7 linked regions of the Homo sapiens genome follow. The protein of the gene in region 5 purifies or fractionates together with the protein of the main gene of each other region. This does not show direct contact. Each region holds a gene or a part of one and is shown on either strand. Other genes may lie near its edges. The genes, in order: UFD1, YTHDF2, PLAA, AGL, ASPSCR1, ASAP1 and PEX7.

The links.
Region 1: the proteins of ASPSCR1 (region 5) and UFD1 purify together in Homo sapiens (affinity purification with mass spectrometry, with the first as the bait; one study listed by BioGRID). This does not show direct contact.
Region 2: the proteins of ASPSCR1 (region 5) and YTHDF2 fractionate together in Homo sapiens (co-fractionation; one large-scale study listed by BioGRID). This does not show direct contact.
Region 3: the proteins of ASPSCR1 (region 5) and PLAA purify together in Homo sapiens (co-immunoprecipitation; one large-scale study listed by IntAct). This does not show direct contact.
Region 4: the proteins of ASPSCR1 (region 5) and AGL fractionate together in Homo sapiens (co-fractionation; one large-scale study listed by BioGRID). This does not show direct contact.
Region 6: the proteins of ASPSCR1 (region 5) and ASAP1 fractionate together in Homo sapiens (co-fractionation; one large-scale study listed by BioGRID). This does not show direct contact.
Region 7: the proteins of ASPSCR1 (region 5) and PEX7 purify together in Homo sapiens (co-immunoprecipitation; one large-scale study listed by IntAct). This does not show direct contact.

What each region holds. Positions count from the first base shown.
Region 1 is NC_000022.11:19,465,694-19,469,193, forward strand, and holds part of UFD1 (ubiquitin recognition factor in ER-associated degradation protein 1), read right to left. Parts: intron 2,311-3,500; coding exon 2,180-2,310; intron 1-2,179. UniProt on the Homo sapiens protein: Essential component of the ubiquitin-dependent proteolytic pathway which degrades ubiquitin fusion proteins.
Region 2 is NC_000001.11:28,764,440-28,767,939, reverse strand, and holds part of YTHDF2 (YTH domain-containing family protein 2), read right to left. Parts: intron 1-3,500. UniProt on the Homo sapiens protein: Specifically recognizes and binds N6-methyladenosine (m6A)-containing RNAs, and regulates their stability. M6A is a modification present at internal sites of mRNAs and some non-coding RNAs and plays a role in mRNA stability and processing.
Region 3 is NC_000009.12:26,919,743-26,923,242, forward strand, and holds part of PLAA (phospholipase A-2-activating protein), read right to left. Parts: coding exon 3,436-3,500; intron 643-3,435; coding exon 485-642; intron 1-484. UniProt on the Homo sapiens protein: Plays a role in protein ubiquitination, sorting and degradation through its association with VCP. Involved in ubiquitin-mediated membrane proteins trafficking to late endosomes in an ESCRT-dependent manner, and hence plays a role in synaptic vesicle recycling.
Region 4 is NC_000001.11:99,853,361-99,856,860, reverse strand, and holds part of AGL (glycogen debranching enzyme), read right to left. Parts: intron 1-3,500. UniProt on the Homo sapiens protein: Multifunctional enzyme acting as 1,4-alpha-D-glucan:1,4-alpha-D-glucan 4-alpha-D-glycosyltransferase and amylo-1,6-glucosidase in glycogen degradation.
Region 5 is NC_000017.11:81,984,129-81,987,628, reverse strand, and holds part of ASPSCR1 (tether containing UBX domain for GLUT4), read right to left. Parts: intron 2,123-3,500; coding exon 2,022-2,122; intron 1-2,021. UniProt on the Homo sapiens protein: Tethering protein that sequesters GLUT4-containing vesicles in the cytoplasm in the absence of insulin. Modulates the amount of GLUT4 that is available at the cell surface. Enhances VCP methylation catalyzed by VCPKMT.
Region 6 is NC_000008.11:130,059,175-130,062,674, forward strand, and holds part of ASAP1 (arf-GAP with SH3 domain, ANK repeat and PH domain-containing protein 1), read right to left. Parts: intron 1,896-3,500; coding exon 1,405-1,895; intron 1-1,404. UniProt on the Homo sapiens protein: Possesses phosphatidylinositol 4,5-bisphosphate-dependent GTPase-activating protein activity for ARF1 (ADP ribosylation factor 1) and ARF5 and a lesser activity towards ARF6.
Region 7 is NC_000006.12:136,867,592-136,871,091, reverse strand, and holds part of PEX7 (peroxisomal biogenesis factor 7), read right to left. Parts: intron 1,203-3,500; coding exon 1,089-1,202; intron 1-1,088. UniProt on the Homo sapiens protein: Receptor required for the peroxisomal import of proteins containing a C-terminal PTS2-type peroxisomal targeting signal. Specifically binds to cargo proteins containing a PTS2 peroxisomal targeting signal in the cytosol.

The sequences.
Region 1 (3,500 bases), on a different chromosome or scaffold from region 5:
GCTGAACTGTGTGCATTTTATTGTATACAAATTATACCATGGGATTTTAAAAAATCCTGTGGGAGTACTAAAGAACAAAAAAGATTTAATGAGTCAGATAGGTCCTCTCAAAAGTTCCTCAAAATCAAAGATGCTTTCATTTATACTTCTGTTGTTTCTATCTTTTGAGCTGATAACTTTAGTTAATAGAAATTAAAATAAAGAAACCAGCAAATACTTTTTATAACAGTAAAACTGTAGAACCCAAATGCCCACACAAGGAAATGTCTATTCATGTGGAATATTTTGCCATGTCTTCCTCATCAATTTGCTGAAGGACTTTACATAAAAAGGTCACATGAAATGTGGCTCCAGAGCCTGCCACTGTGAGTCCAACTTGAGGGTGAAAGGGTGAGGCTATCTAGGTTCACCTCGCTTGGTCAAACAGCTTTCCAGAACCAGAGCAACTTTGTGAAAAGCGCCTTATGTGGTGGATGCTTTCTTTGCTCCCAAATATGAAGTGCCACGGTACGAAGTGCCCTTCCCTCCACTCCTCTAGTGACCCTGCCAGGGCATCTTCTCTGACTTCCACTGCAGCAGCTGGAGGAGCAGAGCCAGAGCCCTCAGGCTGAGAACACGAGGCCTCTGCAGGCAGGGCGGGCTCCCCATATGGCCTCTGCGTACTCTGGCACCTGCTGCAGCACCAGCTTCCCACTTTCTCTGCTCGGTGCCAAGACTGCTTTCATCCAGACCTCAGCCAGACCAGAAAACACCAGGCTCTCAACTGATGGAAGTGACGCCCTTTCTCCACACACTAACAAGTTAATTGTGCTGACAAAACAGCATCTGAGATCAACCTGATAAGTCTGCATTGGGGCAGGGCGCGGTGGCTCATGCACGTAATCCCAGCACTTTGGGAGGCTGAGGCAGGTGGAGCACCTGAGGTCAGGAGTTCGAGACCAGCTTAGGCAACATGGTGAAACTCCGTCTCTACTAAAAATACAAAAATTAGCCGGGTGTGGTGGTGCACACCTGTAATCCCAGCTACTCAGGAGGCTGAGGCAGGAGAATCACTTGAATCTGGGAGGCAGAGTTTGCAGTGAGCTGAGACCGTGCCACTGCACTCCAACCTGAGCAGCAGAGTGAGACTCCGTCTCAAAAAAAAGTCTGCATTGCAACACATGTAAAAACCCTGAGAAAATGGGCATGGCCCATTCCTGGTCACTGACAGCCAAACAAGCATGTCTAGGTCAGAGCTCTGAAGGACAAGTTAACTAGCTCTTCCCATAGGACATCCCCCTGCCTGTGGGACAGGAGGCTCAACAAGGCCATCGTGTCCAGAACATAGGCAGCAAAGAATATACATGGCCCATATGCATCCAGAGCACACCCAGCAGTGCCTTGCTCCTAAGAAAACATGCGGAGAGAGCGCTACTGGGAAAGGAGGCAGCTTTTCTTAACTTCCTATCTGTCTGTGTTGTTTGACTGTTTGTTTTTTTTTTCAAGTATGCATTAAAAAAAAATAAAAAAAAAGAAGTAGAATGGAGTGGCCACTCTTATGCCATGATCGTAACAGGAAAAATCAGGGCCATGGAGCTAGAGATCTTGATTGGTGCACACAGCACCGTCCCGTACCTGCACTGCCTACTTCCTGATGCTGTCAACACATACACCTGGCTTAAGTTCAGAGGTGAACAAAAAGAATCCACTAGAACCTGATACCTTTGCTTTCTGCTTGGTGACATAGAAACTGCAGTCATTGCTACCTATTGGCCTGGAGTGAATCAGCTCTCAGGCTGGCATGCAGTGAGGTTGACGGGCCAGTGCACAGCTGGGCGGAGGTACTAGGGAGCCACAGAAGGGGCTGGAGCTGAAGGCAGATAAGCTGCTCCCTCCTTCCACTGGACATACTGTGCATCCTGGCTTTGTGCCAGGTGACACAGACCAACTGAAAGAAGGGCTTCATTGTGGTCTCCATGAAGTGTCTGGAAAGTGACAGAGGTGGCCCAGACAGCACCCAGTGCACTTGGCCAGGGCCACGCAGATGTGCTAGCTGAACCCCATTATTCTCAAATCACAACTTGAATCACAAATGTGTGATCCCCAAAGCAGGCACAGATTCAATACAGTACATGATGTTTAACAACCGCCAGCACACTCTCCTTTGTCTAGAAGAACTCCGCTTATTTGAAAAAGATACACGGCTTTGGGGTTGGTGATGTCCAGGAAGTCAGGGCTCTGAGGTTGGAATTTGGAGTAGGTGGCCACTTGAAGGTTGACGCTCTCCACCTGGACCAGGCCGCCTTCTTCCAAGAGTAAGTTCTGCATCATCTGAAAGGAAGAAGAGGCTACATGAGACTCCTAGAGATGAAGCAGCCTCCACAACCACTGCTCCCTATACACTGGGCAGGCCCGTCTTACTTGGGTCCTTGGAAGAGGAACCTGAGCCAAGATAAGTAATTCGTGATACTATGTCAGGAAGGAGGGAAAAATCAAGTGATGTGGAAGGAAGAAGGCCAATAAAGGGGTGCTACTGAAGCTGTATAGCTCACAGTGTGAACGCATCTCTGCAGGGCTGCCCGGATTACTCACTAGCTCCAGGCTTCCCAGGGGCAGAGCATTTTCCTGGAATAGTCACTCACTGTACTTCCAAGCTGTCCCACAAGCAAATTATAAGGCCCTGCGTCAAGTAGGGCTGCACCTGAGGTAGGACAAAAGCAGCACAAGGCAAGGCTGACCTGGCAATGGAATGGCCCACCACAGCTGAGGCTGCAAGATGGTGACAGACCCCAGAGGTCTCTGCTAAGGAGGTTATAAAAATCTGACAAAGCCTCCACATGTCTCTATTAAACAACCCAGCCAGGTAGACGACGGCTGAGAAGTGAGACGGAAAGAGATAAACAATGCCCATGAGTACTGGGTGTGCAGGGAGTCCAGACTCAGGTCAGAAGCTCTATGTCTCTTGCAATGAAATTTTGCTTGTCTTATTTGAAACCGTCTTAAAAGGGGTGTCAGACATATACATCAGTAGAAAGAGCCGTAGAAGAGAGCTCCCACGCACCGAGCCCTGACAGTTGGACAGTGCTCACGTCGTGGCTCAGTCCATCGATCAGCACTACCTCACACCCAGTCCCAAGCCACATTAGATGCCCTGAAGCAAATCCCAGGTATCACATCCCTTCAAGAATGTTTCATCGGGAGTGGCAGTGAGAAGGTGACTTTAACAGCCAAGGGAAAAGGGGGCTGAGGGCTGTGTCACAAATGAGAGGGAGCTCATGAGGAGGGAGAGGCATGCTGAGGCCGAGGCTGTGCCTGGGAAGCCGTGCCTAGGCCATGAGTGAAGCCTGAGTGGTGGGCCCTATGGATAGGCTTGCAGAGGACCCCATGCACTCACGCTGACAGCTGCTTGTCAGGCTAGTAAGGGCAGAAATAGAGGGTGGTCACTCTACCAAATGCCACAGGCAGGCACAGAAGGATGCAGAGGTGACTGGCTTTGGTAACGGGGGTCTGGCATCCCCAGG
Region 2 (3,500 bases), on a different chromosome or scaffold from region 5:
TGAGCCACCGCGCCCGGCCTCAGAATTTTTTAAATTTTACATTTTTACCAAGGCAGGTGGATCATGAGGTCAAGAGAGTGAGACATCCTGGCCAACATGGTGAAACCCCGTCTCTACTAAAAATACAAAAATTAGCTGGCGTGGTGGCACGCGCCTGTAGTCCCAGCACTTTGGGAGGCCGAGGCGGGCGGATCACGAGGTCAGGAGATCGAGACCATCCCGGCTAACACGGTGAAACCCCATCTCTACTAAAAATACAAAAAATTAGCCAGGCGTGGTGGTAGGCACCTGTAATCTCAGCTACTCAGGAGGCTCAGGCAGGAGAATGGCGTGAACCCGGAAGGCGGAGCTTGCAGTGAGCCGAGATCGTGCCACTGCACTCCAGCCTGGGCGACAAAGCGAGACTCTATCTCAAAAAATAAATAAATAAATAAATAAAATAAAAATAAATAAAATGAAATTCCACCTATTATCTCTTAATGTAACTCCAGAAATACAGACAATAAATTATTTGTCCCAAATTGTAACACTGAATTAGAAACTTAGACTATAGATGTCCTTTTTCCTAAGAAACATGTTTATATTTAAGTTAGTTGGCATACTTAATAGCATTTAAAATAGTCAAGAAAAAATTCAAAACAGCATCATGCAATTATATTTACTACAGCACTGTCTCATTCTTTAAACACCAAATTTGTTCCTCTTTATAATGTGCAATTTTAAGTCTCACAAATACCTATGTTCAATATTGCTTCAAAAGTCAAACTTTCTCAATTTTAACACAACAATACCAAAACAGCCAGAAGTGGTGGCTCACACCTGTAATCCCAACACTTTGGGAGGCCAAGGCAGATAAGACTGCTTGAGGCCAGGAGTTCAAGACCAGCCTGGCCAACATATGGAGACACTGTCTCTACAAAAAAAAAAAAAAAAATCTTTTAATTAGGCATGGTGGTGGCATGTGCCTGTGGTCCCAGCTACTTGGGGGGTGAGCTGGGAGGATGGCTTAAGCACAGGAGGTCAAGGCTGTAGTGAGCCCTGATCACACCACTGTACTCCAGCCTGGGTGACAAAATGAGACCCCATCATTAAAAAAAAAAAAAGAGAAGGAAAAGTATAGATTGGAAACAGAGTGGGAAGCCAGGGCATCAGTAGGCTCCTTCTTGAAGGACCTCCCACTGGCCAAATCTGTGACTTGAGCATTACGTAATATTAATGGTAAGTAAACACCTATCATAGTAATACCTGAATCAAGCAAGAATTATCAATGCTAGAATTAAAAGGAGACAGTTTGATGAGAAACAAGTTATTTACATAGTGTCAACTATTTTCCCACGTATTAAAAAAAAAATTAAGTGGAGAACCTGGTGGACAACACTTTACCCAAAGTGACCAAAGTTAACATTATCAGTAATGGCATAAACAGACATCTTGTACCTCCCAGTATGATGCACTGAGAAGGATACAACCTCACTTGAAACCAGTGAAGACAGACTTGAAACCAGTGAAGACAGACTTAGGAGGGCTGGGCGCAATAGCTCACTCCTGTAATCCCAGCACTCTGGGAGGCGGAAGCTGGCAGATAGCTTGAGCACAGGAGTTCAAGACCAGCCTGGGCAACCTGGCAAAGCCCTTGTCTTACATTACAAATACATACATACACACATACACACACACAAAATTATCTGGGTGTGGTGGCATGCACCTGTAGTCCCAGCAACCTGGGAAATCACTTAAGCCCGGGGAGATGAAGGCAGCAGTGAGCCATGATCGTGCCACTGCACTCTGGCCTAGGCAACAGAATGAGACCCTATCTCAAAACAATGAAAACAACAAATAACAACTTAGGAGACATGAAACCACGGTCTCCAAATGTTCGTGGACTAGAACTTGGACCACAAAAAAATTGCTATCAAGGACATTAAGACAACTGATAAAGTCTGAATAAGATCTGTGGGTAACAACATTGTGTCAATTAAATTTCCTGATTTTGATAAATGCACTGTGGTTATGTAACTGCATGTCTTTGTTCTTGGGAACTACACACTAAAATACCTAGGAGAAAAGACATGATGTCTAGACTGTAACTCTCTGGCTCAGGAAAACATTATATATACACATTTTAAAAACATTCAAATGATAAAGCAAATGTGGCAAAATGTGGAAGAGTAAATCTGAAATTATTCCAAGGCCCAGCATGGTAGCTCACATCTGCCACTCACACTTTAGAAGGCTGAGGCAGGGGACGTGCTTGAGGCCAGGAGTTCAAGACCAGCCTTGGGCAACATAGTGAGACCCTGTCTCTACAACAACAACAACAACAACAAATTTAACTTAGCTGGGTGTGGTGGTGCGTGCCTGTAATCCTAGCTACTTGGATTAGCTACTTGGAAGGCTGAGGTGGGAGGACAGCTTGAACCCAGGAGTTAGAGGTTACAGTGAGCTATGATGCCACCGCTACATTCTAGCCTGGCAGCCTGGGTGACAGAGGCCCTGTCTCTCAAAACTTTTTTTAAAAATGTATTTCAAAACATAAAACTGGGGGGAAGGGAAGAAATGAATTTATTTCTTCTGCAAAAAAGTTAGGTGCACTAAGTTATATTTAACACTTAATAACACTTTAATGTTTATATAATTACAGGCTGGGTGTGGTGGCTCATGTCTGTAATCTCAGTACTTTGAGGCCGAGGCAGGTGGATCACTTAAGGCCAGAGTTCGAGACCAGCCTGGGCAAGGTGGCAAAACCCCGTCTCTACAAAAAAAATACAAATATTAGCCAGCATGCTGGCACACACCTATAGTCCCAGCTGCTGGGGAGGCTGAAGGCAGGAGGATGCAGTGAGCCGAGATTGCACCACTGCACTCCAGCCTGGGTAACAGGTGAAGATAAATTTAAACCAGGAACAGAGGGCCTTACACCTTGTTCAGTCCTAGCTACTTGGGAGGCTGAAGCAAGAGGATCATCTGAGCCCAGGAATTTGAGTCTGTAATGAACTATGATCACAGCTGTGAATAGTCACTGCACTTCAGCCTAGAGAACATAGCGAGACCTCATCTTAAAAAAAAAACAAAAAACAAAAAACAAAAAAACATTAAGGCCTGGCACGGTGGATCACCCGAGTAATCCTAGCACTCTAGGAGGCCGAGGAAGGTGGGATCACCTGAGGTCAGGAGTTCGAGACCAGCATGGCCAACATGGCAAAACCCCATCTCTACTAAAAATAAAAAATTGAGGCCAGGCACGATGGCCCACGCCTGTAATCCCAGCACTTTGGGAGGCCGAGGTGGGTGGATCACGAGGTCAGGAGTTCAAGACCAGCATGGCCAACATGGCAAAACCCCATCTCTACTAAAAATAAAAAATTGGGGCCGGGCACGATGGCTCACGCCTGTAATCCCAGCACTTTGAGAGGCCGAGGTGGGTGGATCACGAGGTCAGGAGTTCAAGATCAGCCTGGGCAAGATGGTGAAACCCCCACTACTAAAAAAAACAAAAAAAA
Region 3 (3,500 bases), on a different chromosome or scaffold from region 5:
GAGGATGAAGGATGGATTACAACTACATATTAACTCTAGAGCCAAAGCAGAGTTTCCAACTGGTTTGATATCAAGATCAAAATTATCAGCTGTTACTGTGCCCTACTCACCAAAACGTGCTGGCATTTTAAGCACTGCCCTGCAGGGTCTCTCATGTCTTGTCAAGTTAAATATAGCCAGGCATGAGGCATTTGATGAAAGGTGGCACAGAAGCTCCCAATCCAAAATGGCTGGGAACAGCTTTTGTATAGAAACTACTACATGACAGACAATTGCTAATTTGTCTCTCAAATGCAGCTCTCACTACATGGAAAGATACTTTTAAAATATCTATTTCAAGACAGGGAAAAAAAAGATTAGTTTCCCACAGTAATGGATTTTTAAATGTCAAAACAAAGGAAATTTTATCACTATGGGGCAAAGGAAACCTTTAATTTGCCTAATATTTAAGACAATAGTAATTAGAAAGTAGAAGTCGACATACTTTCCCTTCATATAAAACTTTTCCAGATGTTTGCTGATTAGCACCAGATGAGCCAACAACATCACCAATTTTTATCCACCTCCCTTCACTAACACTCCACTGATAGGCTTCGACTTTCTCCCCATCTCTGATTAGACGAGTCTGTCCTTCTCTAGTACCTTAAAATAAAAATTTTAAGAATCAAAGGTAGAATGGCAATGTAAAATTGAAAAACATTTAAATAGAAAATTCTTAACATTAAAATTTACACATAAGAGAATATGGATTTTGTTTCAAAATAAAATTGTATCAAATAAAAGATTTAAAAATGTGGCCAAAAGAAAATAACAGTTAAAAGGAAATATTATTAATCAAAGGAAGGTTAACAAAACGTGATTCTACTAGGAAGCAACTGGCCCATCAAAAATAAAACAAGTTTTATTAGTGAATATATCTTCCTAACACATTTCATTCCGTAAATGGCTCTCCATTAATCCAGTGGCTCAAACTGAAAAGTAGAAAAGCCTGATACCTTTCTCTCAACCCCATCGCTCCTTCGGCTACTTCTCAGCACCCCCTTCAGCTACTGCTATCAGCTCATTCTTTAAAATATATCTAGAAAACTGTCTCCTTAATATCTCCATCATCATCCCTTGGTCCAAGCCACCATCATTTCTCAGTTGGGTTGATTCAACGGCCTCTTTCCTGTACTCTTGGCCCCCGACAGTGTATATTCCACCCAGCAACTTCAGGAATTTTTTCAAAAGTTTAAGTAGGTCCTGACACTCTTCTGCTTGAAACCCATCAATGCTTTTCATCTCACTTGGTAAAAGCCTAAACTCTTGAGTAGTGTACAAGACCAAATATAAATTGTCCACACTATCCTACATGACCTTACTTTCTACTATTCCCCCTGTCCCCTCATCTCCCAACTTCAGCCACAGAGCCTTTGTATTAGCTGTTTATTCTGCCTATGATGCTCTTCACACAGATATTGGCAGTATTTGCTCCTTTCCCTCTTTAACAACTTTACACAAATGTCATGTTCTCAACAAGGCCTTCAGTGGCGGAGACAGCTATCCATCCTCCGAAGAATCATGCTCTTCTTCCATTAGATACAGCTGTAGTTGTCTAGCCAGAGACTACATTATCTAGTCCCCTTGCATTGGGCAGTCACATGATGTCACATTACTGAGTAATGGTCAGTGGAATCTGGGTGGATGTGATATATGCCAGTTCTGGCCTAGTCCATCATACTTTAATCTCCCCTCTTACCCCATCTTAATCTGTTTCAATTTGTTATTTTGGTTGACTACAAAAAGAAAATCCAGCCTAACACACGTAGGTAGTTGAAAAAGAGAAGACAAGTCTTTTCAGAAAATGTGGATAGGCCAGAAATACTAGTTTTTTAAACGCTACAGTGTACAATCTGAAACCACATCAATGAATTTTTCATGCTCTATTATACTAAAATCCACTGGTCTATCTTGTACTTTGAATGGATCTTTTACCCATGTCTGAGATGGTATCAGATACTAGTCATATGGAAAATAATGGTTCAATAACTTACGCAGATCTTCTGCATATTCATACAGTTTATTATTCAATATTAAAAAATGGCATTTGTTAATGTTATTACCACTAGTATCAATACAAATGGGAAGCTACTAAGTTCCTGGTGGAGATACATTTTTCCTACATTTCAATTTTCACTCAAACACTTGAATTTTATCTTTGGCAACATATATTATCAGTTATTTTCCTTGACGGAACATGCTCAATTTGTTCATTTTCAAAAAACGTCTGCCAAATACCAAAGCCTGAATAACCGTAGTCATTCTTTCAAATAAAAATAGCACTCCATGAAAAAACTGGTAGTTTAGCCTGCAACTCAAATGACTGCGCATGTTCTTTTCTTTGAGACACCACAGTATTTTGACTTACTTTATGTCTACTTTAGGTTTTCTCACCCGGAATATTTAAAAAGATGTGTCAAAATGTAATAAAACTGATAATTCTTAATATTAATACCTCATCAAGGACATGCTTAATGGCAAACTGTTTTTTTTTGTTTTTATTGTTTTTTTTTTTTAAACTACAACTGCATGCAAGTAGAACATAGTAACTTACCAGAATGGTTTAAAGCCCCTGGCTTGATTTACATACTAGTGAACCAGTGGTTTTACCCACCATTGTTTTTGCACCATAAGTGCAAACATTAATACAATGTACAACATTCAAATAATATCTAGTATTACAAAAATTAGTTTTGACCTCATGGACATCCTGAAAGGATCTCAGAATCCCCAGAGGTCCATGAATCAAGCTTTGAGAAGCACTGGTATAATAATGCAATCAAGAGATACATCCAACCCAAGATTTCATTTGAGATGACTACGGTCTTCTGATTTCAAACTCGAATGATTCCCAACTCATTACACAGACAATGCTTGATTTTAACTCATTTTTTTTTTTTTTTGAGACAGAGTCACACTCTGTCACCCAGGCTGGAATGCAATGGTGTGGTGTCGGCTCACCGCAGCCTCAACCTTCTGGGCTCAAACCATCCTCCCACCTCAGCCTCCTGAGTAGCTGGGACTACAAGCGCATGCCATCACACCTGGCTAATTTCGTATTTAAACTCATTTTAATATTCAGTTTGTAACCCCTCTCAGAGAATCCAATCAACCAAAAAGTATTAAATGAGTGCCTTTTGAGTGTCTACTGTAAATGATCTAAGTGTTGGGAGATTTATTTTTTAATTCCTGTTTATGAGAAGCTTAATTCAAAGTCTTCTGTGAGACAGAGGCAAGAACATGGTTTCTCATAGTGATTATATGTAATAGTAAAAATCCTCAAAAATCAGCATCTAGCAATGAAAAACACAAGCAAAACAACATTTATTTTTCTTCTAATTGTTCCAAAAGCCAAATATGGTGAATTTTTTCTACTAGGTACAATAAAATACTTACCAGGTTCATTAAGATGTTCCCTCCCAGGAAGCTGCTCAGCATTGATGTCCCCTAAATCGCCAGTT
Region 4 (3,500 bases), on a different chromosome or scaffold from region 5:
GTTGCTGTGTCTGTGTAGAAAGAAGTAGACATGGGAGACTCTATTTTGTTCTGTACTAAGAAAAATTCTGCCTTGGGATGCTGTTGATCTATGACCTTACCCCCAACCCTGTGCTCTCTGAAACATGTGCTGTGTTCACTCAGGGTTAAATGGATTAAGGGTGGTGCAAGATGTGCTTTGTTAAACAGATGCTTGGAGGCAGCATGCTCCCTAAGAGTCATCACCACTCCCTAATCTCAAGTACCCAGGGACACAAACACTGTGGAAGGCCGCAGGGTCCTTTGCCTAGGAAAACCAGAGACCTCTGTTCACTTGTTTATCTGCTGACCTTCCCTCCACTATTGTCTTATGACCCTGCCAAATCCCCCTCTGCGAGAAACACCCAAGAATGATCAATAAAAATAAATAAATAAATAAATAAATACAAGAAAAGAAAAGAAAGGGAAGAAGGAAGGAAAGAAGGAAGGAGGGAGGGAGGGAGGAAGGGAGGAAGGAAGGGAGGGAGGGAGGGAGGGAGGGAGGGAGGGAGGGAGGAAGGAAGGGAGGGAGGGAGGAAGGAAGGAAGGGATGTTATATTTTCTTTCTGTAGCCCAATAGATATATCAGCGCATACCCCAAGGGATACATAGCCACTCTGTAGACCTCTAATGCAAATCACTGAAACTAAAATTTTTATATACAGTAAATGAAACATCAGAGAGCCTACAGTAGGTCAGATTCCATGACTCAGTTTGCTAAAATTAGCTGAGGTCATAGCAGTACATGGTGTGGCTATCTTATTCCTCATACTAATGCTAGGATACTTAACTTGCATTAGCCATGTCTCTCTTGTAGGCAACTAGCATAATGAGTGATTAAACTATTATTGTAAATAAATATGTTCTATCTTTTCCCCTCCACTCAATTTATAGAAACTCAGTCTTCTAATCAAAGAACCTTTATGTCTAAATATTTTCTTTAAAAAATAGTAAAAATTATAAATTTCATCAACCTACTTAAAAGATGGAAGAATTTCAGATTTGGGAAGTACTTATTTTGTTCATTATTCTTTTTTTTTTTTGAGACCGAGTCTCGCTCTGTTGCCCAGGCTGGAGTACAGTGGTGTGATCTTGGCTCACTGCAACCTCTGCCTCCTGGGTTCAAGCGATTCTCCTGCCTTAGCCTCCTGAATAGCTGGGACTACAGGTGCATGTCACCACATCTGGCTAATTTTTGTATTTTTGGTAGAGATGGGGTTTCACCATGTTGGCCAGGCTGGTCTTGAACTCCTGATCTCAGGTCAACTACCCGCCTCGGCCTCCCAAAGTGCCGGGATTACAGGAGTAAGCCACCGTGCTCGGCCTGATTTTATTCATTATTCTACCACTAAATGAGATAGGAAATAAGCGAAAAAGCTATGATTTGTCTAGAAAAGATCATTATTTATTCTTGTACTTGTTGAACTGGAAGAATCTATAGAAATATCAGTCTTAAAAACGAGGAGGAATTCCTTCTTGTAGAAAAGAGAGAAGGAAAGAAATATGAGGGCTTTGATGACCAATTAAATATGAAACAGCCAAAAACTGCCAGAGTTTTTCCTCACATTTGATTGGTTACCAAGTCCTCTGAACTTGAAAATAACTCATACTTTGTCCTCTCTTTTTCTTTTTTCTTTTTTTTTGAGTCGGAGTCTCGCTCTGTTGCCCGGGCTGGAGTGCATTGGCACGATCTTGGCTTACTGAAACCTCCGCATCCTGGATTCAAGCAATTCTCCTGCCTCAGCCTCCCAAGTAGCTGGGATTACAGGCACCCGCCAGCACGCCTGGCTAATTTTTATATTTTTAGGAGAGACAGGGTTTCACCATGTTGGCCAGGCAGGTCTCAAACTCCTGAACTCAGGTGATCCGCCTGCCTTGGCCTCCCAAAGTGCCAAGATTACAGGTGTGAGCCACCGCGCCTGGCCTTGTCCTCTCTTTTTCAACTCAGGCTGTTCAATCCTTTTCTTTAATCAGATGTGTTTTTAAAATAGCCTTCTCAATGCTTCTTGTCTCCAATGTCCCTTCTCTACCACTCTTCCACTCATCTTTCACATTTCAAATTATCTTTTTTTTTTTTTTTGAGACGGCATCTTGCTCTGTCACCCAGGCTGGAGTGCAGTGGCGCAATCTCAGCTCACTGCAAGCTCCGCCTCCTGGGTTCACGCCTTTCTCCTGCCTCAGCCTCCCGAGTAGCTGGGACTAGAGGCGCCCGCCACCAGGCCCGGCTAATTTTTTTTGTATTTTTAGTAGAGACGGGGTTTCACTATGTTAGCCAGGATAGTCTCGATCTCCTGACCTCGTGATCCGCCCGCCTCGGCCTCCCAAAGTGCTAGGATTACAGGCGTGAGCCACCGCACCCGGCTTCAAATTATCTTCTAAAACAAAATGATCACACCATTACTGCAAAAAAAGGTGGCACATTCTCATTTATAACATTTGGATACATTTACCGGTTTTAACCAGAGTTATAAAGTCAACCACATCATTCTTTTTTCATAAATCCTTCAATTTCCCTCTTCAAATAGGTTAGCTTTTACAATTTTTGCTAGTTTTAACTAGAGTTCTAGTAATCAATCAGCAGTACACTGCACTAAGTTTGTAAGGCTGTCCCTATCCTCACAGATTTTATTTTATTTTTTATTTTTTTTTAAGATAGAGTTTTGCTCTTGTTGCCCAGGCTGGAGTGCAATGGTGTGATCTCAGCTCACTGCAACCTCTGCATCCCAGGTTCAAGCGATTCTCCTGCCTCAGCCTCCCAGGTAGCTGGGATTATAGGCATGCGCCACCACGCCTGGCTAATTTTTGTATTTTTAGTAGAGAAGGGGTTTCACCATGTTGATCAGGCTGGATGGTCTCAAAATCCTGACCTGGGGTGACCCACATGCCTCGGCCTCCCAAAGTGCTGGGATTATAGGTGTGAGCCACTGCGCCCGGCCCTTTATTTTTGTTTTTTAAAGACAGGGTCTCACTCTGTCACCCAGGCTGGAGTGCAATGGTGGGATCATAGCTCACTACAGCCTTTAACTCCTGGGCTCAAGAGATCCTCCAGCCTCAACCTCCTAGGTAGCTGGGGACCACAGGCAAGCACCATCATGCCCAGCTAATTTTGTTTCTTTTTTGTGGAGATAAAGTCTTACTATGTTGTCCAGGCTGACCATGAACTCCTGGCCTCAAGTGGTCCTCCAGCCTCAGCCTCCCAAAGCACTGAGATTACAAGTGTGAGTCACCTGCCCTCATCAATTCTCACAGATTTTAAACCCTAGTCTGACACTGTAAGACTAACAAGCCTTTAGACACTGCTTCATTATTCAGCACTTAATAGTTCTGTGCTCATTGTGTAATTGGAAATCAAAGGAAGCAGACAGTGAAAAATTAGGGAAAGACTTCACAAAGGAGGTGATATTCTAGCTGAAAGTTGAAACTTAGGCAACACATAGACTGACAGTAAATGAGATTTAACAGATATAAAGGAATCTGATGGGA
Region 5 (3,500 bases):
AATGCCGGCCCCACCTCTCCAGACACCCTCGGCCCCTCCCCAGTGGCAGCCCCAGGCCACTCTGGGCCATTTCCTTACCTCCATCCCCATCTGAGGACTGACAGCACAGCCAGGGAGGACGGCCCTCACCAAGCACCTGTGCCTGTGGGAGCACTGGATTCTGTTCACGCCCGGGGGCACCGCCCGGCCCAGGGGCATTTCCTTCCAGACGTTCATCTTTCCTGACTTCTGTTCCCCGCGCTGTTTGGTTTTCTTCTTGCCCTCTGCCACTCTCGTCTCAGGAAGCAGCACAGAGCCAGGGCGCCGGGATCCCTGCTTCTCACCCAGTGCCCACACAGCGCCTGGGGCTGCCTGCCTCCCTGCCCGGCGCCACTCCTGGCTCGGGTCCCGCTCACCCCTGCCCGTGGCTTCGCTTTGCTCTCAGGCTCCGTCATCTCCTGCCTCGGGTCCCGCTCACCCCTGCCCGTGGCTTCGCTTTGCTCTTAGGCTCTGTCACCTCCTGCCTCGGGTCCCGCTCACCCCTGCCCGTGGCTTCGCTTTGCTCTTAGGCTCCGTCATCTCCTGCCTCGGGTCCCGCTCACCCCTGCCCGTGGCTTTGGCTTTGCTCTTAGGCTCCGTCACTGTTGTCTGAGTTCCGTTTTGGGAGGGAGAATTCCGTGCTCGTGCTTAACCCGCTGCCATCTCCAGGGGCCTCCATTCACCCCGACAGCCACTGGGGTGGCTTCCATCCCCATGACCACTGAGACCCGACGTGCAGACCTCAGCGCTCTCACCCACGAACGCAACACCCGTGCCATGCAGCGCGGCACTACTGTCAGACGGGAGCAGGCCCAGCCCTGGGGCCACCAAGCGCGCCCAACGCACAGTCACCTTCCCAGCGCCCGACGCGCGGTCACCTTCCCACAGGCCCTATGCTCGGTCCTCAAGACATGAACTCACCCCATCCACACACCAGCCGGGGCACAGGTGAGGAAACTGAGGCCCGGGGAGGGCGAGAACCCCCTGGCTCACAGCAAACCCCAGCCCCAAGTCCCTTCCATTCTGCTGAGCCTTTTACTGTGGACAGAGACTTCCAGCCAACGATGAAAAGACCCAAATTGACAAAGCACCAATTTTTACACATTCAGGAACAACGTTTAAACCATTAACCGACAGAAACTGATACACATCAATTACTTATTTTTATTTATTTATTTTTTTGAGACAGAGTCTCGTTCTGTTGCCCAGGCTGGAGTGCAGCAGTGCGATCTCGGCTCACTGCAACTGCCTCCACGGCTCAAGTGATCCTCCCACCTCAGCCTCTGGCATAGCTGGGACCACAGGCACGCACCACCATGCACTATGCCTGGCCTAACATTTCTATTTTTTGTAGAGAAGGGGTTTCACTATGTTGCCGAGGCTAGTCTTGAACTCATGAGCTCAAGCGATTCGCCAGCCTCGGCCTTCCAAAGTGCAAGCCACTTTGCCCAGCCACTGTGCCCAGCCACTGTGCCCAGCCATCCAATTACTATTAGGAAGATTTTCTGGTGGGGCACAGGAGCTCACACCTGTAATCTCAACGCTTTGGGAGGCTGAGATGGGAGAATTTCTTGAGCCCATGGGTTCAAGAGCAGCCTAGGTGACCAACATAGTGAGACCCTGCCTCTTAAAAAAAAGAGACCTTATGATCCCATCCAGGGGAATCAAGCATGGGGAGCCCTGCCCCCAGCACCGAACGTCTCCCCTTAGTGCTCACCAGGCCCCCACAAGGACAGAAGCACATTCCTGCTCTTCTAGGTGGGCAAGGCTGGGCCGCTGGGCCCAGGAAACTCAGAACGATGAGCTGTGACCAGCCATCCCCGAGGCTGCTGCTCATGAACCGGCAGCCCACACACCCCTCCTCTACAAAGGACTGCAAAGTGCCAAGAGGCACCACAGGCCAGCACAGAGCTTGGGTGTCCAGCTCTGAACCAGACCCAGTAACCACAGCAGCTTCCCCAGCAAACAGGGTAGGGAAGAGCCCCCAGCCCACTGATGCTCACCTGATCTGTGGAAAATGGCTGAGAAGCTCCCAGAGGGTCTGGCCTGAACAGAAAGAGTCCTGCAACCTCGAGCCATCGTCCAGCTGCAAAGCGATGCGAACCTGGAGGGTATAAGACATGAGAAACTTCCTTAGGAAGAAAAGCAACTATTCCTTCTAAATCCCAGACTGATTCTCCAGACACAGAGAGGGTGACTGCCCCGCCCTGGCCTCCAGGGAGAGGCTGACCCCCACGGAGAAGGCTACCCTCCTATTCACTCTGGAGTGAGGGCCTTGGAGGCTCCCCGGCAGGGCTGCACCAGCATGCGTGTGTGCATGTGAGTGTGCAGGTATGTGCAGGTGTGCGTGCGTGTGTGCATATGTGTGTGTGGGTGTGTGCGGGGGTGTGCAGTTGTGTGCAGGTATGTGTGTGGATGTGTGCATGTTGGTGTGTGGGTGTGTGCAGGTGTGCGCATGTGCGTGCAGATGTGCGTGTGTGTGCATGTTTACATGCAGGTGTGTGCGGGTATGTGCGCAGATGTGTAGGTGTGTGTGTACAGGTGTGTGCGTGGGTGTGTGTGGGGGGGAGGTGTGTGCATGTTGGTGTGGGCGGTGTGTGCAGGTGTGTGGGGGGGTGTGCACGCAGGTGTGTGGGTGTGTGCAGGTGTGTGGGGTGTGTGCGGGTGTGTGCGGGTGTGGGGGTGTGTGCACGTTGCTGTAGGGGTGTGTGTGGGTGTGTGTGGGGGGTGTGTGTGCGGGGGTGTGCAGGTGTGTGTGGGGTGTGTGCAGGGGTGTGTGGGGGTGTGTACGGGTGTGCGGGTATGTGGGTGTGTGGGGGTGTGTGTGGGTGTGTGTGGGTACATGCAGGCGCCACAGGAGTGAACTGTGTTGGAGACAGTCCTCGTGTCCCAGTGGGGGCTTCAAAAGATTGCAGCTCCACCGAACCTGACTGCAGCCTCAGGACAGACACTGAGCTAAGCTGCTCCCAGATTCCTGACCCTCAGAAGCCACATGAGATGGTAAATGTTTGCTGCTCTTTTTTTTTTTTTTGAGACAAAGTCTCACTCTGTCGCCCAGGCTGGAGTGCAGTGGCAGCACAATCTCGGCTCACTGCAAGCTCCGCCTCCCGGGTTCACGCCATTCTCCTGCCTCAGCCTGCTGAGTAGCTGGGACTACAGGCATCCGCCACCACCCACGGCTAATTTTTGTATTTTTAGTAGAGACGGGGTTTCATTATGTTGGCCGGCTGGTCCCAAACTCCTGACCTCAGGTGATCTGCCCGCCTCGGCCTCCTAAAGTGCTGGGATTACAGGCTGCCCTTGCGGCATCCATGCAGCGCTTTCGGCTCTAACATTCTGGGCAATTCTATGAGCAGGTGGTCAGGCTGGTGGGTGAATGCTGCTGACACCCTGAGCCAGGGAAGGCACAACTGACCCCAGAAAGAAAGAAAAACTTCCACATGAAGAATGACGTGGGCGGGGCGCAGAGGCTCACGCCTGCA
Region 6 (3,500 bases), on a different chromosome or scaffold from region 5:
TTTTTTTTGAGACGGGGTTTCACTCTGTTGCCCAGGCTAGAGTGCAGTGGCATGATTACGCTCACTGCAGCCTCGATCTCCAGGGCTCAAGCAATCTTCCCGCCTTAGCCTCCCAAGTAGCTGGGATCGCAGGCATGTACCACCATGCCCAGCTAATTAATTTTTATTTTTTATAGAGACGGTTTCTCTGTATGTTGCCCAGGCTGGTCATGAATCCTGGGCTCAAGGGAACCTCGCACTTTGGCCTCCCAAAGTGCTGAAATTACAGATGTGAGCCACTGCACCCAGCCCCATTTTAATTTTTTTGAGACAGGGTCTTGCTCTGTTACCCAGGCTGGAGTGTAGTGGTGTGATCACAGCAGCCCTGAACTCCTGGCCTCAAGCGATCCACTCGCCTCTTCCCAAAGTGCTGGGTACTGTAACATTTTATAACAGAATGTGAGGCAGGTAGAGCTGCCATGTGCAATGGGAGAACTTCTGGATATAGAGTAGGAAACATTTCATGAAAATGACAGAATATGAGATTTCTACAAAATTCTATGCTATTCTATTATATCGAGAGCTTTATCTCCAATTCCTTTAGGAAGATGCAGCGAGAAAGTCTGACTTAGCAACTCAGGGAGCCAGGTGCAGTGGCTCACGCCTGTAATCCCAGCACTTTGAGAGGCCAAGATGGGAGGAGTGCTTGAGCCCATGAGTTCAAGACCAGCCTGGGCAACATGGCAAAACCCCATCTCTACCAAAAATATTAAAAAAAAGCCAGGCGTAGTGATATGTACCTTGGTCCCAGCTACTCAGGAGGCTGAGGTAAGAGGATCACCTGAGCCTAGGAGACTGAGGCTGCAGTGAGCTGTGATCGCACCACTGCACTCCAGCCTGGGCGACAGAGCGAGCCCTTCTCAAAAAAAAAAAAAAAAAAAAAAAAAAAAAATAGAGAGAGAGAGAAAATACCCAGAACCCCGAGAGGGAAATTGGTTTCTCGTGACCCTCAGGAAAGGAAAAGTTTCATCCTCAAGGTTCCTAGGTAATAGTGACTACTTGCTCAGTGGTCTAGGTGCCAGCCAAGTGCTGCTCATTTGTCACTGTATTTAATCATCTGTGAGCTCAAATATTGTATTAGCTCCTTTTTGTATGTGAAGAAAGTAAGACTCAGAGAAAGTAACTTGCCAAGGTTGTGCAGTTATGTCAGGCACTGAAGCCAGGTCTTGAAGCCTGTCTGCTGGAGCCTAAAGCCTGGGTTTGTAACCCACAGGCTCTAATCCACCATCATGCTTGAACCAGAGCACATAAGGGTCAGGTGAGCAAGCTCTCACTTTTTCTTGTGTAAGTTGGAGCACCTGCCCTCCCACCAACTTGCAAAGTGCGGAATAGGGTTCCTAAGGGCCTGAACATTGTCCCACCCACCGTATTGATTTTTCTGGGCAGTGGTACGGGCGTCTCTGGCAGAGTAGGCGTGAGGTCGTTGGAGTCTTCAGATGCTTGCTTTTGGATGGCGTCTCTGGACTGCACATTTGGGGATAGATCCAATGGGTGTGACTTCAGTGTGACCTCAGAGGGTTGCTGAGCCTTGGGTGAGACATCTCCAGTCTGGGATTTTGCTAGCAGGTCTCCCAGCTGTGGTTTGGGGGGCAGGTCCTTCATCTGTGGTTTGGGAGGTAAGTCTGAGAGTTGGGGTTTGGGTGGCAGGTCCCCCAGCTGTGGTTTGGGGGGCAGTTCTCCTGGCTTAGGCGGCAAATCTCCAATTTGGGGCTTGGGGGCCAGTTCTGTGGGCTTTGGGGGCAGGTCTCCAGGTGGTGGCTTTTGTGGCAACTCTGCCAACTGTGATGATTTCTGAAAGATTTCGGGCGGGATGGTGGCTTTGTCTAGGGAGAGATGATCTGTTTTCCTTAGTGCCACTGTGGAAGCAATCAAAAACAAGGAGGTCATTGGTGGGAAGGGCTGCTTTCCTGTCAGTCACCTAAAAGAGGCACCATCATCATGAAGGGAACTGACCTATAGTGAGCACTTGAAATGGATGAACTCAGGGGCCAGGCCCACCCAGGCAGTTTTACAAAGACAAAGTTTGAAAGCCTGGAAAGTGTTACAATTCATGATTTTATGCTTCAATTATATAAGAACAGGATGTCTACATTCATCCAGAATTAAAAAAAATAAATAGAAACAGATTGCAGAGAATCGGAAAGTACAGAGTTCTTAAGCCTAACACCTAAATGTAGCCATTTAAAATTCTTTTATATAGTTCCTTTTAATTTTCCTATATATTTTCTATAGATATAACTTTTACTTGCTTTTATCTAATACCATTTTAGCAACAGTATTTGTCATGTTATTAAAAATTATTTACTAGTTGTATGTAATTTTGAATGGTGCATTCTATTCCATTCTATAGCTGTATCATAATTTATTATTATTTCTCCCCATTTTACATGATTCATGCAGTATATAAGCGAGGTAGCAAAAGGCTTCTTCTACTTTGTGCCCCTGTCTCGGGTTAACCTCTGTTACATTTTGGTGATACACACGCGTGTGCTATGTCTTTTAAAAACCATACAAGGGATACATAGTCTGAAACTTTGCTTTTCTCCCACTTACTATGTTTAGGAAAGCTCCAAATCAGTTCTTTTTTATTCTGTTTAATGGCTGCACAGTATGCACAGCTTAGGAAATGTATCAATTTGTTGACCCATTTCCATAGCTCTTTGTACAGCTCTTGGTACTTAGAAAACTATGGACATGTCTCCAATTTTAGCTCCACCACTTACTAGCTGTGTGAATTTGGGCAAATTACACAACCTCTCTATGCTGCAATTTACTGATCTCTTAAAACCCTACTTCAAAGGGTTGGCATGCAGATTACATGGGTTAATATATGCAAAGAATTTACTGACAAGCCCTGGCAGGCTGTAAGCATTATGCAGTAGTACTACCATCACTGTTAGGGTTCTTTAAGGCCCTATTACAGTATTACATTCCTGTTTTACTCATTTTTGTAACTTTGGCTCCTGGCACAAGGGCCAAGGACATAGCCTGCACTCAGGGAGGAAACAGCTGACTAAGGCACACTGAGTGACTCACATTAGGAATTTGATCCTAAAAATATAACGTATTCAGAAAGACATTCTTAAAGAAGGAGAAGAAACAGATAAACCTCATGTTGTAAATGTCACAGGCTGTACTAGGGCTGTTTCTGCTCATGACCTGTCTAGTCATATCTCTAAAAAAGTCAAAATCAAGGGGCACCCTGCTCACAGGCTGGTCCCTAAGCTTCTGCTGAGGTGGCTTGGCTCTAAAAGTTAATTTACATGAATCTCGTTCCTCTCTTGGAAGTCTGAAATTGGCTAAGAAACAATCTGAGCCAGGCAGTCAAGAGGGAAAAAGCTAGGGGGAATCCCTGAGGTGGTGGGGCTAGAAAGGCCTTGGCTGTGAGTCACACTGATGGGGCAAGAGAAACTCTAAGTGCCAGGCATGGAAAACCTTCAAAATACCCCACCCTCTTCACC
Region 7 (3,500 bases), on a different chromosome or scaffold from region 5:
TTATTAAAAAATAAAACAGAGCACTGTGTCTCCTATGTTGCATTGCAGCCAGAGAAACTTAAAATATTAACTTAACTAAAAATTTAGAATTTTTGGCCAGGCACAGTGACTCAGCCTGTAATCCCAGCACTGTGGAAGGCTAAGGCAGGCAGATCACTTGAGGTCAGGAGTTCAAGACCAGCCTGGCCAACACTGTGAAACCCTGTCTCCACTAAAAATACAAAAAAATTAGCCGGGCATGGTGGTGCACACCTGTAGTCCCAGCTACTCAGTAGGCTGAGGCAGGAGAACAGCTTGAACCCAGAAGGCAGAGGTTGCAGTGAGCTGAGATCGTGTCTGGGTGACAGGGCAAGACTCCATCTCAAAAAAAAAGAAAAAAAAATTTAGAATTTTTTAAATAGTAGGAATAACATAATTACCTTATTAAAATAATCAATAAGGTACTTTTTTATCCTTAACGTAAAAAAACAAAAGGATGAAATTGGGAGATGTCACTTAATAAGATGTTTTCCACAGTCATTTAGCAGAACCTGCCTAAATATAAAAGCCAGGAAACCAACCTAAGTCATCTTATAACCCAGATAAATTTACTGAGACCATCATTAAAAATTTACCTCATCCTCTGCTGTTCACAGAGTAGAAAACTTTCTATATCCCAAACATCTGTGAACAGTCATGTATGTTATCATGTTAGGAAAAAGAAAGAATTAACCATCTCTTTACATCTGTTTCAACAAAGTAGAGACTCTCGCTAATTAGAAACTTATAAAGAACATAATACTAAAAGTGAATTACTATAGTTAAAAAAATATATTAAAGGAAAAACAGATTGGAGGTGAAAGAATGAGAAAAAGATTTTTATTTAACCTTAAGTATTGAATGTCTACATTGCCCAAATTCATTCAATCATTATTCAAATATTTTTGCCTAATTTTAGCTTTCACTACTAATTAATTGGGTAACAAAAACACATATAAAAAAGAATTAGTAACTCCAATCCCTAAACCCAGAACACTTTTTAATATACACTTCATTGATTATATTTATATAATTTTATTCTACATATAAAAGAAAAGATGAAAACTTACTTTCACCCTCCTAATAGCATAGGTATGACCAAGAAGTTCAAACACTGGTTGTCGTACATTCCTTAAGTCCCAGCCTCTCAAACTACAGTCAACCGCCCCGGTCACCAGCAAATTCTAAAAACAATTCAGAGAAACATAAACTGTGACATCTTTGCAATTAAACAGTATGCAGGCTTTCCTACTAGAAACAACATCTGCTTTCTGATAACTATTTAATATGAACCAAGGAGTCATTTTTGAGAAGTTGTATAACAAGTATAGACAGGAATCAACATAGACATTAATAGCAAAAAACTAATATGACTTGTGAGAAAAAGAACTCAATATGCTTTATGTACACGATGGAACACTACAGACAGCTGGAAAAGGCATAGTTCCAAACAGCATTGTGGATTTTCTAATTCAGCTTTAGAAGCGGCAGTAAATACATAGGGGATTAAAAATTTTATCTGACAAATGAGCCCAGCTTTCTCTTCAAAAGGTTTTCCCTGGAATTCCAGCACCTTGGGAGGCAAAGGTGGGAGGATCACTTGAGGCCAGGAACTTGAGACCAGCATGGACAATAAAGCAAGACCCTGTCTACCCAAAAAATTAGCCAGGCGTGGTAACACACACCTGTAATTTTAGCTACTTGAGAGGCTGAGTGAGGCAGGAGGATTGTGTGAGCCCAAGAGTCAGAGGCTACAGTGTGGTATGATCACCCCACTGTACCTCAGCCTGGATGACACAGCGAGACCCTGTCTCTAAAAAAAAAATAAAAATTTAAAAAAGGTTTTCAAGGCTGGGTGCGGTGGTTCACTCCTATAATCCCAGCACTTTGGGAGGCCAAGGCCGGTGGATCACTTGAGCCCAGGAGTTTGAGACCAGCCTGGGCAACAGTGAGACCTCATCTCTAAAAAACAAACAAACAAAAAGGGTTTCAACATACTCTGAGGTTTTTCCAGGCATTAAAAGGCAAGAGGTCTGTTCATTTAGGCACATCTGAAAAAGCAAAGGCTATGAATTAAATTTTTCCATGTTCTCTAAATCTAAATTAATCATTGTTTCCAACTCTCTTGGACCAAAATTCTTAATACGATATCTAATCATATCCAAGAATGTAATCAAATAGTGGTGAGTCTCTTATCTATTCCGGCTTTACAAATTCTGCTATCTAGAGCCCCAAGTGAACCCAGAGGTCCTGGCTGAATAGGACAAGTGCTGGGTCCACACTCAGTCCACCCCACATAACTCAGAACAGCAATGGATTTAAGTTGGCGCAAAAGTAGTTGCAGTTTTTGCCATTGAAAGTAATGGCAAAAACTGCAACTACTCTTGCACCAACCTAACATTGTCTGACTATGTTGGGCTTTAGTTTAAGCTAATTTGAAGAAAAGTTTCAGTTATTAGAAAATAATTTTTGTAAATCACTCTCAAATGTCTATCAGCATCTTTCTTTAGAGTTCCCAAACATCTAACATACAGGCCATAATTAATTTTCCAATATGAAACATTCATTTATGAGTTTGAAACTATAGTCATCAGCATTGAAATGTTTAGATTGAGTAATATCATTGTATATATACTATATTTTAACTTATTTTACTTATTTTTATTTAAAGAACTCTGCCAATACAATGTTCTTTTAACTTTAATTAATTTAAAACTGGGAAAAAAACAAAGCATACATTTTACCTATTTGTCACGGTCAACAGACCACTTCAGGGACATAAATACAGTCATGCATCACTTAATGATGGGGATATGCTCTCAGAAATGTGGCATTAGGCAATTTCATCTTTGCGTGAACATCACAGAGTGTACTTACACAAACCTAGGTGGTACAGCCTAGTACACACCCAGGCTAGATGAAACAGCCTATTGCTCCTAGGCTACATGCCTGTCCAGCATGTTACTGTACTGAATACTGTAGGCTACTGTAACACAATTGTAAGGCTTTCTGTATCTAAACATAGAAAAGGTATAGTAAAAATATAGTATGGAAGATAAAAAATGGTAGTAGGGTCCTTACCATGAATGGAGCTTACAAAACTGGAAATTACTCTGGGTGAGTCAGTGAGTGAATGAGTAGTGAGTGAATGGAAAGGCCTAGAACATTACTGTACACTAAATTTATTTTTTATTTCCTTTCTTCAATAATAAATTAACCTTAGCTCACTGTAATTTTTTGCTTCATAAACTTTCTAATTTTTTTTAAAGTTTTTTGTTGTTGTTGTTGTTGTTGTTTTGAGATGGAGTCTTGCTCTGTTGCCAGGCTGGAGTGCAGTGGCGTGATCTTGGCTCACTGCAGCCTCTGCCTCCCAGTTCAAGCGATTCCCCTGCCTCAGCCTCCCGAGTAGCTGGGACTACAGGCGCCTGCCACCATGCCTGGCTTTTTTTACTTTTTGACTCTTCATAATAACAAAACTTAAA